2 linked regions of the Homo sapiens genome follow. The protein of the gene in region 1 purifies or fractionates together with the protein of each later gene. This does not show direct contact. Each region holds a gene or a part of one and is shown on either strand. Other genes may lie near its edges.

Region 1 (7,039 bases):
GTAAGCTCACCTTCTGCAGGATGGGGGTAGGGCAGATGTTGTCAAACAGGACTGAGTTGAAGATCCCATACACGCCCTCATCAAGGTGGTACACGATGGTCTTGGAGGTGGAACCATTTTCCTCTGCAGGAGGGGAGGGTTCAGAGGCAGCACAAGTAGCAATGTGAGGGGGTGGTAGTGGGGCTGACACAACAGTGGGCTCAGTAAGGAAGCAAAATGGCTACCCATTCCTCAACCATGAGGCGAGGCCTACAACAAAAGCCATCAGCAGCCATCCTTCCAATGACATGGGTTCACTGCCGTGTTAGGAACACTCACCCCTGCAGCCAAGCAACCTGCCCAGGATGCACTCCCCTGCTTGCATCTGAGCCCCTAGGTGCCCCAGCAAAGGCAGAAGAGCAGCCCACCCAAACTCAAGACCCCAAAAGGTTAAGCCACTTGCTCAGAGGCACATGATAGGGCAGTGGATGAGCCAGAATGAGAAGCCAGGTCTCTTGATTGGATCAGACGGGACAATCCCCCAGGTCTATAAAGGAAGCCAGAAGAATGCCACACACGAACACAGGACATTCTACCTGGAGCCCACCACCCTTCACATGAATTCTCTCTGGGGAAAAGCGCACAGTCCTGAGGCTCCCCTGCATGAGGGTCCCAGAGCAGAGGGCAAGCCTCAAGATCAGAGTCCCTGACACCTGTCACTCACAGGCTGCTATCCCTGACCTATCTGGAAGGGGAGGGAAGAGCACTGATGTTGGTGATGTGGGCCCAGAAGCGCTGAGTCAGCCTAACCTGAACTTGAATCCCCACACTGCCCCTTATCAGCCATGTGACCTTGGGCTAATGACTCAGCCTCCCCCTGCCTATGTTGTCATCTGTAAAGTGGACTCAAACAAATGTAAGCTGTCATTAATTATTTTCATTATATTATGAGAAGCAGTAGGGTGAGTAGGAGCCTGTATTTTGGAGAGGAGACAGACATGGGGTCAAATGCAGGCTCTTACTAGCTATTAAGCAGTTCACTTGTATTCTCTTTGGTTCTCGGTTTCCTCATCTGTAAAATGGGGTCAACAGAGTATCTATTCTCTCTAAGGTTGTTTTGCTCTCAATCTTCACAAAATATGAACATGCCTAGGAAAAAAGATGCTAAATAAATGTCTTGGGGTGGGGCGACTTGACTGAAAGTTTCCCTAAAGCAAGAACCCATTCATTCTCCAGATTCCCCCATCCTCTGCCACTGGGTCTAAAACCAGATCCTGCTCAGCCAACCACTATCTGAAGCTTCAGGGGAGAACAGGGCTCCACTGCCCACCTGGCACCTACCCTCCCTGCCAGGCTGGTCTAGCAGAACCTCCTTCTTGGCAATGATGCTGACTGCCACAGTGAAGGCCGAGGTCACGTAGTAGCGCCCCAGCTCAGCAAAGATGTCCACGCCACAGCCCTCTGGGAAGTACAGGTCCAAGGCTGAGTTGATCACGGAAGCAATCTGGTAGGAGGAGAATGGGGAGACAATTATGTGTTTGAAATGTGGGCTTTATGCTGAAGACTTGCTACAGCTCCAAGTCTATTTCTTGAAAGCTGCTTTGATTTCCGGAAGAAGGATTTGGCAGCTGCTAAGGCCCCAGCTGATAACTGTGGACAGCTGGCCAAGAAGGTAGGAGGGGGACAGAGCTGGGTAGAGAGCCTCGTGCTTGTGTAAATCACCCTCCTCCATGGCCCCACAATGGGAAGGAGTCCTCTTCATATCACACTTGGTACTCAGATTCCAGAAGCCCTGATGTGGATCTTTCTTTCATAAATAACCAGTTTGTTAAATACAGTTGACCCTTAAACAACACAGGTTTGAACCGTGTGGGTCCACTTATGCATGGATTTTCTTCTGCCTCTGCCACCCTGAGACAGCAAGACCAAGCCCTCCTCTTCCTGCTCCTCCTCCACAGCTTTCTCAACTTGAAGACAATGAGGACAAAGACCTTTATGATGATCCACTTCCACTTAATGAATAGTAAATACATTTTCCCTTCCTTATAATTTTCTTAATAATATTTTATTTCTGGCCAGGCATGGTGGCTCATGCCTGTAATCCCAGAACTTTGGGAGGCTGAAGTGGGCAGATCACTTGAGGTCAGGAATTCGAGACCAGCCTGGCCAACATGGTGAAACCCCGTCTCTACTAAAAATACAAAAAATAGCTGAGCATGGTGGCTTGCACCTGTAATCCTAGCTACTTGGGAGGCTGAGACACGAGAATCTCTTGAACCCAGGAGACGGAGGTTGCAGTGAGCCAAGATTGTGCCACTGCACTCACGCCTGGGTGATAGAGTGAGACTCTGTCTCAAAAAAAAAATTATTTCCTCTAGCTTACTTTATTGTAAGAATACAGTATATAATACATATCACACATAAAATATCTGTTAATCGGCTGTTTATGTTATCAGCAAGGCTTCTTGTCAACAGTAGGCTATAGTAGCTAAGTTTTAGGGGAATCAAAAGTTATATGCAGATTTTGTAGTGTGTAGGGGGTCGGTGCTCCTAAGCTCTGCGTTGTTCAAAGGTCAACTGTAATATACTTGATTACAGAAAATTCAGAAAATACAGAAAAGGAAAAAGAAGATAAAAGTCACTCCAAAGTCTATCAACTAGATGAATCTAATTATTGTTAACTTTTTGGAGTAGTGTCTTTAATTATTTTTTATACAAACGCTATTTTTTATTATAACCATGGTAGGTCTCTGTATATGTTTTTGGAACCTGTTTTACTTAATAGACTGTGAACGACCTCCCCACATTAAGGAAGTGTTTTCATCAAAAGGATGTACCATAATTTAACAAATCCTGAGTATTAGATGGACCAGGGAAGTCCACTGGACTTCTGTTAGGAACAAAGCTAGAACAGTCATCTTTGAGGCAAATTCTTTGAGACTATCCCAAATCATTTCTGTAAGGTCAATTCCTACATGTCGGTATTCCCGAAGGAGGCGCCTTCCAAGAAGAGGCGACCTCTAGTGGTTGGAGTGGGAACTGCTAGGACACATTTTTCTTAACTTCACCTCACAGTGGGTAAGGAAAAGGGAATAGAGGAAGAGAATGGACAGGCAGCAGACCAAAGGTTGGTTTTCGTTTCCCTGCCTCCCCACCCGATATCTCATCAGCCCACCTTAGGGTGAAGAGGCCTATCCCGCCCCTTAAAGAGCCTTACGACTTATGTAAATGTGTCCTGGTTATGCCTCCAATTGGCTGAAGTGCATGGCAGGCAGAACCAGGTTCTGCTTTGGGCTCAGGAAGCAATGTAACCTCTGTGAGCCTTGGCTTGCTCAGCTGTAGCACAGGGTTAATAAGCAGTGAGATCACCCAGGTAAGCACCAAGCACTGCATGCAGTGCATAGGACCCACGCACGGTGGTCTCCCTCCGATCATCTAATCCCTCCCTATCCTCCCCGCCATAGAGCCCAGCATGACACTCCCAGCTCCAGGGTTACCTCTTCAAATCTCACTTTGGCCCCTTCTGTGCCAGGGAAGCCACCACCAAGGTCCAGAACGTGCATCTTGTGACCCAGCTCGGTGCCCATTTCAAACACGAGCCGGGCGTCTGCGATGGACTGAGCATAGGCCTGAGGGTCAGGACAGCCACTGCCAATGTGAAAACTGGGAAGAGAGGAAGAGCCTCGGCTGACATGCAGGGCTCCAAGTGCCACCACCTGAGCCCCAGCCAAGAATGACATTGGGCAGGCACATGAGACACTGTGCCCATTTTACAGATGCAGTGACCAAGGTCCTGAAATGTTCAATGGGTTGCCAAGGGCCATATGGCAAGGGAGAAGTGGACAGGAGGCTTGATCCAAGGGCTCCTGGCACTTGGTGCTCCTCCCATCCCTCCTTCTGGGATGAGAGCCAGGACCCCCAAGTCAACCAGATCTGGCTGTGCCTCCCAGTCAGCAGGGTGGCCTTGGCAGCTTACTCAGCTTTGTTTTAGTTTCCCCACCTATAATGCGGGGACAAGACCCACACCACACAAGGCTGAGAGAATGTGCATGAAGCACTTAGCACAGCACCTGGCACACCTAAGTACAGAATAAATGAAGCCCTATATTAGGTAGTTCATTGTTCATTAGGTAGTTCATTATTACTCCTTCCATATCCCTGTAAGAAAAGAGGCACACAGCTGGGTGCAGTGGCTCACACCTGTAATCCCAGCACTTTGGGAGGCCAAGGCAAAAGGATTGCTTGAGCCCAAGACTTTGAGACCAGCTTGAGCAATAAAGTGAGACCCCATCTCTACAACAAATAAAAATTAGTCAGGTGTGGTAATGCACGCCTGTGGTCACAGCTACTTGGGAGGCTGAGGCGGGAGAGAGAATTGCTTGAGCCTGGGAGCTCAAGGCTGCAGAAAACCATGATCATGCCACTGCACTCCAGCCTAGGTGACAGAGTGAGACCCTATCTCAAAAAAAAAAAAAAAAAGAAAGAAAGAAAAGAAAAGAGGCCCCTCAAGAGTGTAGCTGCAAAACCTTTGTCCTACAGGCTGGTAAGACTCCCTCAAAGCCAGGTCTCTGGATGGAACTTCCTGGGACAAGACCTTCTGGGGACCCTGGGACTGGGGAAGGGACCCTTCTAAACTTCCTTTTCAAACAGAGGAAATTCTCAAATGGAAGAATTCCAGGCCCAGGGACAGGCCCTACTCAGAGGCCCTGGGGAAGGTCTCATATAGAATTAATTCCTGGGAAAGAGGCAGGGAGCCTGGTGTGGGAGGGGATGGCAGGGGTTCCCAGTGCTCACCTCACACCCACCACCTCCACATGGTGCTTCTTCGCATTTTCAAGCAGGTGTCTGCAGGATTTCAGTGACACTCCAAACTTTAGGCTCAGGCAGCTCAGGGAGTGGGAGTCATCGGTAGCAATGCACAGAACCATCCTGATGAGACACGCAGTGCCCCTCTGCTGGACAAACCCTGTCGCCCCACCCCAGCCACATCTCTCAATCAAGGGCTGTGAGCTACATGGCTCAGAGCCACCCAACCCCACAGGCTCCCTGACCCCTCCCTCTCCCTACACAGCCAATCAACCTTCAAGTCCTGTCCAATCCATTCTCTAAATGTCCCTGACCCATTCCTGCAGCCCCTGCGCCCTGGTCCAGACCTCACCAACTCTCCTGGGGCAGCTCCAGTCCCTCCAAATCAGTCTCCACACCAGTTAGAGCTTTCAAACTTGTCGTGTATGAGAGGAACCATTTTTAAACAAAGCCTTAAGGAGAACCCATTAATACGATGGAAGCTGCTTTGGATGGACTGGAGTGGCCCATCACCTGGCCACCCCCTTCACCCCAAGGCCCCTCCTGGGAAGTCCAAGGGTGTCCAGTAATCATGTAAAAGGCACAGCCAGAGCAAAACGTCCAGCCCTGACCCCTTCGAAAGTCCATTTGCATCGGCTCCCCGCCCCCGACCAGGATCTCCTTCACCCCCTACACATAGCATGCGTCAGCCACACTAAGTTTCTGCTTACGCTTGAATGTCCCATGCTGTTTCCAACCTCAATGCATTTGCTTACGCAGTTCACTATTTATGCCCCCTCCAAATTCTATTCATTCCTCAAGGCCTGCTTCAAATGCCACTTCCTCCGTGGAGCCTTCCTGACCACTCCCTCGACTCTCTCAAGCCTGTGACTTTGGCCTCCATAACACATGGGTCTCACTCTGCCTAGGGCTTTAACCAGTTATTTCTGCCTTTGTTCTAGCTAGACCCTAGCATCCTGGGTTCAGTCCAGGAGTACCTGCCCCAACCTCCTGCAACTGTGGCTGGGTCCAGGACAGGGTGACCTGCCCCAGCTCCACCCCCTCACCCCACCCCCCCCTTCACTCTGAAGCCCAGCCTTCCCTCAGCCCAGCCTCCCCACAGCCCAGCCTCCCCACAGCCCAGGCTCCCCACAGCCCAGGCTCCCCACAGCCCAGCCTCCCCATGAGTGGTTCTCAGCTTACTTGGCACTGGGGTGGCTCTTTACCACCTTTGCCAGCTCCATCTCATTGTCAAAGCTCAGCAGCTGGATCCCATGCTTGGCAGCATATTTGATCTGTGCAATTTGCTTACAGGGGTTGGCGCAGATGATCTTACTGGCAGGGATTCCAATATGCTGGACCAACTCCATCTCTGCCTATGGGGCCCCAAAGGTGGTTGTAAGGAGGCACCAGGGCCTGCTAGCCCACGGAGCCCAAGGAAGCACAGATGAGGGCAAAGTCATAGCTATGCATAGGGAGGCCCATAACAGTGGGCCTTGCTCTAAGACAACAGATACATAGATATCAGGACTTACATGGATTCACCATTCTTTGATAAGCAGGGCTGCCATGTACAGCCATGCGGGTGGTACACTGAACAATCCTGGGGGTGGGGAGTTCCCATTCAGAATGAATACAGAGTAGATTTGTATATTTATTAAAACTTCCTGGCAGTAAAGCATCTCATTCTAAGAAAATCAGTATATTTATTATAACAATTAATTGTCTTAAGGAAAGGGTACATTTTCTAATTTACACAAAGGCATTATATGGACTCATGGTAGCCCTGACAACAGGCTTCTGACACATTTTCCTGGCAAATTTAAATGTTTAAATATTACTTGGAAAACAGTATGGAGGTTCCTCAAAAAAAAAACTGAAAATAGGACAGGGCGCAGTGGCTCACGCCTGTAACCCCAACACTTTGGGAGGCTGAGGTGGGCAGATCACTTGAGGCCAGGAGCTTGAGACCAGCCTGGGAAACATGGCAAAACCCCATCTCTACCAAAAATACAAAAATTAGCCAGGCTTGGTAGTACATGCCTGTAGTTCCAGCTACTCAGGAGGCTGAGGCAGGAGACTCACTTGAACCCAGGAGGCGGAGGCTGGAGTGAGCCGAGATCACATCACTGCACTCTAGCCTGGGTGACAGAGCCAGACTCCATCTCAAAAAATAGAACTACCAACTACCATATGATCCAGCAATCCAATACTGGGTATACATCCAAAGGAAAGGAAGTCAATATGTAAAAGAGATATCTGCACTCCCATGTTC
Region 2 (7,039 bases), on another chromosome or scaffold:
TTTTCTAAATTGTTTTGACTTAAATAAAGCATTTTTCTACATACAACTAGAAGAAATAAAAAATTCATCTTTTTAGAAGAAGATATTTTACAGCACGAATATATTTCCTCTTATGAGATTTAAAAGAAAGTGTTCCTTTAATGGTTGAATATGCAGCATTTCACCAAAGATACAAAAAAACATTTAAGATTATTTTATTCCAAAGGCTCCCTAAATATGTTATCAGAACATAAATTTACCACTTGAATCTAGAAGAAAAGAATCTACTTCCTGCCTTGTGTAATAAGATGAAAGCCTGAAGGTAAAAAGAATGAACAACCATGTGAGAGATTGGGTGTGTACATCTTTTAAAATTAGGTCTTTAATCTTCACTGGCACTCCTGAACTCAATAGTGCTACAACCAGGCTCCCTCATAAAAAGAGATAATAAGAATTCCTGACCATTAATGGCCTGGAAGTCTTAGAAGAACAAAATCAAAGAGTAAATAAATCATAAACTAACGTTCAATTTTTGAGCACTGTGCGTTTTTAAAATGCTGAATGTGAGGCTTTTCGTCCTCTTTATGTAGGATAAAATTATTAAGCTTTCAAAAAGATGGAATAGTTTAAATTCCTTTCCAAAACCTCTGCCCTCTGTCGACTTACCATTTAGATTGTGGCACGATTCAGAGGGGTTTATTAGTGGGGGGATTTCATGTTTCATGGGTTAGCAAAGCAGAATACTTGTTGAATACATGAAGCCCACTGCTTTGAATAGCCCACCATAAAGTTGTATTTCCTGATTCTACTTCTGCCTACAGAAGAGATTCAATTTCTCCTCCTTTACCCCAAAGTCACCCACCTCTCCCATGTCTCCTTGAAGTCTAAAGACAACATAAAAAGGCAGCAGAAAACCAAAAAATGGAGAGGACTTTTTTGTATGTTCTTAGATACAAATCTAGGCAAGTAAAAAACTATGACAAGAACAACAGCAACAAGAAACCCTGGATACCGATGATCCCTTGACCTTTTCCTGTATTCCTGGAATCTTTCTGTAAAGGAGGTAATTTCAGTCTGCTGTGTAATTATTCCTACTTATCAAGGCCTATTTCAATTTGAATCCTACTGCAGACTGAAATATGCCAAGATCTTTCATTAACATACCATAGATTTTCTTTTCATTATAAATCAAACTAAATAGGTCATGATTGCTTAATCAGTATGCAAAGTATTGCCTCTGGGAATCACACACATCCTCTGACAGCTAAAAATTTTTTTTAGTGCTTTGAAATCTAATTCTACCTAACCTAACCTGATCATAGCTCATCATTTCTTCACATCAAATTTTTCATCAGATGAGGTGCAGATTTTGTCCTGGAATGGGTATCATAAACAGCACTAAGAGCAGGGGTTTAATTAATTCAGAGGGATACAGATTTTATCGCTCCTCCAAACATATGATTAAGATCCGCTGCCTTCCCTCAACAACCAAGAAGAAAGGGTTGGGGACAGACCCTTTCCCCAAATTATATGGTTGATAGACTTATGCCTCCTCCTAAAGAGAGGGACTGGTTCTTCCCTACAAAGGAAAGTTCACTTCATTCCTAAAGGTTAGTGAGTTCATGACCATTTGTATTTATTAAGTAATCCCCAGGGAAATCTCATCTAGTCATCTAGTTTTCGATGTTATCTATATGCAGTTGAATCCCAAATGTCCATCTCTGCCTTAAACTTTTACACTGAGTTGTCCTCTCAGCCTATAAATCTGTTTATCTATTGGGCATTTCAGACTTTACGGAGCCAAAACGAATTATTGTGCCTCTCCTCCAGACTTGTTTCTCAGTCTTTCTCACAGCAGCAAATAATCATTTCATGCCTACAAAGTGTCAGATGCTGTCCTGCAGCCTTTACGAACATTAACTTACTGAATCTTCACTACCTATGGGATCGGCATTAAGATGATCTCACTTCATGAATGCAGCAAGGCCTAGATTTCAACCCAAGCAACCATGAGCCTAACCACAATGCTCGTAAACAGTTCCAACACTCACTCAGTAGCCCAAGTCAAAGGCCTAGACATCACACTTGGTCCTATTTCCTTCATCATCCACCTGCAAACCACTGTTGATCTGTTCTCCAAATCCTTTCTATCCCCCTTGTCCATGATTTTGTCGTATAAACAAACAAACAAACAACAACAACAACAACAACAACAAAAACTCAAACTCTGTCTTCCTAACTAGACTCTAAACTCCATAACCCCAGGGAATAAATCTAGGCTATTCATCCAGCAAAATGCTTTACATTAAGTAGACTACCTGGCTATAAAACCTATTAGTTTTTCAAACATGGAAAAACACAAATTAGACATTATCCCCTGTGGGAAGAGGCTAGAAGCCTTCCTTGAACTTGCCAGCTCTATTTCCAGTCCCAGGAGGAATATGAGTCTCTCCCCTCCCTTCCCCTGGCAGACCTTGCACAAACTTGACACTCCCTCTGCTCAGACATTCCCACCTCCCTGCCAGGCACCTCTCTCCTTCAGCAACAAAACTGCCAGCATTGCCCCACCTTCCATTTGGTTAGTTTACCTATGCAATGTGATTAGGAAGGCCATGCAGGAAGGTCTTCCTGGTACTTATACCCCACAGGGAAGTTCAGACCAGTGTTATACGAAACCCTCAGGCCTGGATTAAATACAGAGGTGACCAAACCCAGAGAATTAGAGCTTGTTCAACTTTACACTGTCAGGGCCATTAATTGGTATTGGCCACGAAAGTGGAAAGACAGAGGCCAAAACTACTGACAGATAAGCTCATTTAATTTAATGCCTAAAATCCAGTTATCCTTTCAGGAGATTGTTCATATGGTGTTGCAACTTATCTTTTAAATTGCTGCACATCAATGTGTGGTTTCTTATTTTTTCCCGTAATTGTCATCATTAGGTTGGGGAATGTTGGTTAACTTCTGGAGATAAACTGACAAGCTCCCTGGCTACATTCTGCCTGACTCTGGGCTGTGCCCTGAACCTATCTGATTGAGTCCTTAGGGTGCACAAGCATAGAGCCCAATAGGACTGCTAGGCCATATTTAGAGGGAGAAAAACATTCTCATTCTTATGGAAACTAAGGAAGTTGGGGAGATGTCATGCTCGTTTTAGACCCAATTCCTCATACAAAGGACATCTTCTCATAGGAGCAAAAAGGCTTACATCTTAGTTCTTAGGAACCAGCAGGCAAATTTGGCTGCTGGCAAAACTGAAATAATTGCTGTCAATTATTGGTACCTCTTCCTACCATCAGGCCTTTCTATGCCTAGGAGAAAGAAAAATTGACTCCCACTTAGGTATTAGGAATGCAATATCTTTACCTTCCAAAGTGTGATAGTAGAGAAGAAAATGCATAACCCAAAGACAATTTCTTAATGGTGAAATTTGGGACTAAAGTTACGGCTAGGGATAAAGCCTCTGTGATTTCCTCATCAGCCCCTAACCCCCAATACACAAAAAGAAGAAAAATCACATCACATATGTGGAGTACTCCCCTTTGGTACAAGACCCCCAGCAGGTAAAATACTTTGCAACATTAGAAAAGTACCATCATCATTAAATATTTCATGCAACTTAAGAATAATCTAATAAAAAAAGTGTGATTGTAGAATAACTGAGATTATTCTGTACCTTACCTAGCACAAGACAGGACGATAATGGCAAAGCAAAAACCATTTCTTCCTTTCTTTTTTTTGAGACAGAGTCTCCCTCTGTCGCCAGGCTGGAGTGGAGTGGCGCCATCTCGACTCATTGCAACCTCTGCCTCCTGGGTTCAAGCAATTCCCCTGCCTCAGCCTCCCGAGTAGCTGGGATTACAGGGGCATGCCATCACACCCAGCTGATTTTTTGTATTTTTTAGTAGGGACGAGGTTTCACCATGTTAGCCAGGATGGTCTTGATCTCCTGACCTTGTGATCCACCCGCCTCAGCTTCCCAAAGTGCTGGGATTACAGGGCCAAAACTGTAATCTAAACCAAGCTCTAAAACTGGTCTAAACCCAGCTCTAAATATTCCCTAGAATAGTGAGAATGAAAAGTGCAAAACAAAAGATGAAAAGTACAAGGTTTTCTTTGTAAATCAATTGCCAGCAAGTCAGTATTGAAACTGCCAACCACTTTTGGAAGACATACATAGTGAGTGTCAAGTGTGCTGAGGAGAAAACACCTTCCCATTTATAGTTTTTATGAGAAAAAGTTTTAAAAAAAGTATATTTGACAAATGTTAAAAATATAAAGAGAAAAACATTTAAACAATAAAACCTAATGAAAGTAGTCTGAGTGAAAATAGAGTTTCAGTGAACAGAGTTTTATTTCATGAAGCTACTTTATAGAATCTGCTTCACATGCAGCATACTTAATGATTATTCACATTTCTTTGCTTTGCTTTTAGAGAAAGTATTTTTTTTTCCTAGCTTCATGCACCAAATCAGCCTTGTAGGAAAAATGAAACAAAACACAACAGAGTGAGGAGACATCAGGCTGAGTTAATAAAACACTGTTCATATGATACTTACGCAGTGGTAGTCTGCATGTCATGCCAGCTTTTGCTGAAGTTCTGTTTTAATTCATTCATCAGGTTCATGCCGAGTTTTTGTTTTATCTCAACTAGATGCCTTTCTTTCGCTGACAAAACTTGTCGTAGTGTTGTAATTTCGTCTTCTAGCTACAAGGCGGAGGGGAAATGGTGGGGGAAAATGTCAGACCAGCAAAAAAGGATACTTACAGAAGCTCTGGGTATTCCAAAGCAGCCTCTGACCCTCCTATTTATACAATCCCATGTGTAGGTTTGCCAAATACACCCCATACAGATGATAGTCTAATATCTCAAAGTAGAAACAGAATTTTTCATTTTAATGATTATAGAAGTAATTTATGCTGCTTGTTAAAAAAAAAAGTGAGATTGTACAGAAAAACATAAACAAGAAAATAAAAATCACCTGTATCCTGCTAGGAAATAGCCACTGCTTATTTTTTGGTTTCTAAACTTCCAAATGTTCTTTCTATAAGTTGTATATAGACATAATTTTTGAACAAAAATTGGTTTTCTACTGTACCCTTATTTTATATAACTTCTTCTCAAGTGCCACTTTATTTATTTATTTTAAAGAGACAGGGTCTCACTATGTTGACCAGGCTGGTCTCAAACTCTTGGCCTCAAGGGATTCTCCTGTCTTGGCCTCCCAAAGTGTTGGGATTACAGACGTGAGCCACCACGCCTGGTCTCAGTGTAGTTTATTTTTTGCCAACCACACACAGTTGCATAGGTGCAGGAATGGAATTGGCAGACAATGGGGTTTTGCCAAGCTAATGCCTTAAGAAAGGAAGGAACAAGGGATTAGAGGATGTATGTAAAAGAGTGATTTGTGTTGATTTTTCTTTTTAACAGTTTCATTGACCTGTAACTGTCATACAATAAGCTGCAGACATTTAAAGTGTATATGTATAATTTGTAAGTTTTAACATATGTATCTACCCGTGAAGCCATTATCACAATCAAGGAAGTGAACATATTCATCACCTTTTACTTGCTTCTTCTTCTTCCTCCCTCCCTCTTCTTTCCTTTCCCCCAATCCACTCTCACCAGACAGCCACTGACTGACTTTCTTTCCCTAGGGTTTAGTTTGCAGATATTTACTAGAATTTTATACAAATTGAATCATAGAGTATACACTCATTTTTGCTTGGCTTTGCAGATAGTTATTTTATATTCATCTATGTTGCTGCATTATCAATGGTTCTTCCCCTTTTTTTGCAGAGTAGTATTCTATTGAATGAATATGCCAAAGTGTGTTGTTTATTTGCCTGTTGAAGGGCATTTAGGTTAGGCTAATGCAAATAAAGCTGCTATGAACATTCATGTACAAGGCTTCGTATGGACATATTTCCTCTTTCCCCTGTGCTACAGAAAAGCAGATCTCTTCAGCACTATAAAATTGCTCTTGCAAATGCAATTTCTAACAAAAGAGCTCTGTAAAGTACTCAGATTTTGGAAAGTGCTGTTCTATCCTGTGAAAATAAATCTGAATAAATCACAAAGTCTTTGATTTTAATTAGTTGTCATACTCTATAACATATTGCTCTGGTATCAGTGCTTACATTTACATCTTTGTTTTCTGAAATATGGAAAACAAATTTTGTGACTTTTCCTTGTTAAGCCGGAAAAGAATCATTAGAACTACCTTAGTATCCCACATGCATGGAGGTAATAAAACTCTGTCACTTTAGTGGATTTCTTACTAAATTTTTTTTAAAAAGGAGCAACTGTGGCTCATTTACTGTAAAGTGTCACTCTACTTCGGACCACAAGCTGCATCACACCAACCCTGTCAGGCTGTCAGTCATCTTGCAAATGCGTTCCTTGGATCACCAGAGTCACAGCTCCTGGGAAAGCAGCTCAAGAAGGGCATCTGCCTTTGCAAAAGCAAAACATGCAATAAAACCCCCCAGTCTTTCACTAGCGCCAATAGTGAACAGACAGAAATGGTTTTGCGAACCTTTATATACACAAATAATCACGTAAGCAAAACAAGCAGAAATACTGAATCACAAGCATCTTAAATACCACAGTAAGAAGTAGCAATATCTTGGGGTTTTTAATATCAGCAAAATGTCCTGGCAATTTAACATTATCCATTTCTTTATGTTCACAGAACATTTTTTATATGTACATGGACATCTTTCTAAAATCTAAAGTGAATTACATATTCTACAAACATAGTATAATCAATAGAACCCTGTCTTTCCTTGATGAGCAAGAGTCTTCAGTGTGCATACATACACTGATTACTGTAAAAGGAGTATGTTTAGGGACCAGTAAAGAGAATAATGCTTTTAGTCTCTCCATTAAATGAGAATACACTGTTATTTTAAAATTAAGCCCTTCTATTCTTTTGTTATCATGTCATATTTCTCTTTTTCATCTTTGTCAATGTGTCCTCCTCCATTTAATCTGCTGCCCAATATTTCTCATGGTTGTATCTCTTGCTCTTTTACCACAGAAAATGCTTGGGGTTCA

The links.
Region 2: the proteins of AZIN2 (region 1) and TPD52L1 purify together in Homo sapiens (affinity purification with mass spectrometry; 2 studies listed by BioGRID and IntAct, with this or other methods). This does not show direct contact.

The regions. Positions count from the first base shown.
Region 1 is NC_000001.11:33,091,151-33,098,189, reverse strand, and holds part of AZIN2 (antizyme inhibitor 2), read right to left. Parts: intron 6,141-7,039; coding exon 5,968-6,140; intron 4,946-5,967; exon of another isoform or gene 4,909-4,945; coding exon 4,774-4,908; intron 3,643-4,773; coding exon 3,477-3,642; intron 1,484-3,476; coding exon 1,321-1,483; coding exon of another isoform or gene 1,310-1,320; intron 184-1,309; coding exon of another isoform or gene 124-183; coding exon 11-123; intron 1-10. UniProt on the Homo sapiens protein: Antizyme inhibitor (AZI) protein that positively regulates ornithine decarboxylase (ODC) activity and polyamine uptake.
Region 2 is NC_000006.12:125,226,766-125,233,804, reverse strand, and holds part of TPD52L1 (tumor protein D53), read right to left. Parts: intron 4,688-7,039; coding exon 4,539-4,687; intron 1-4,538.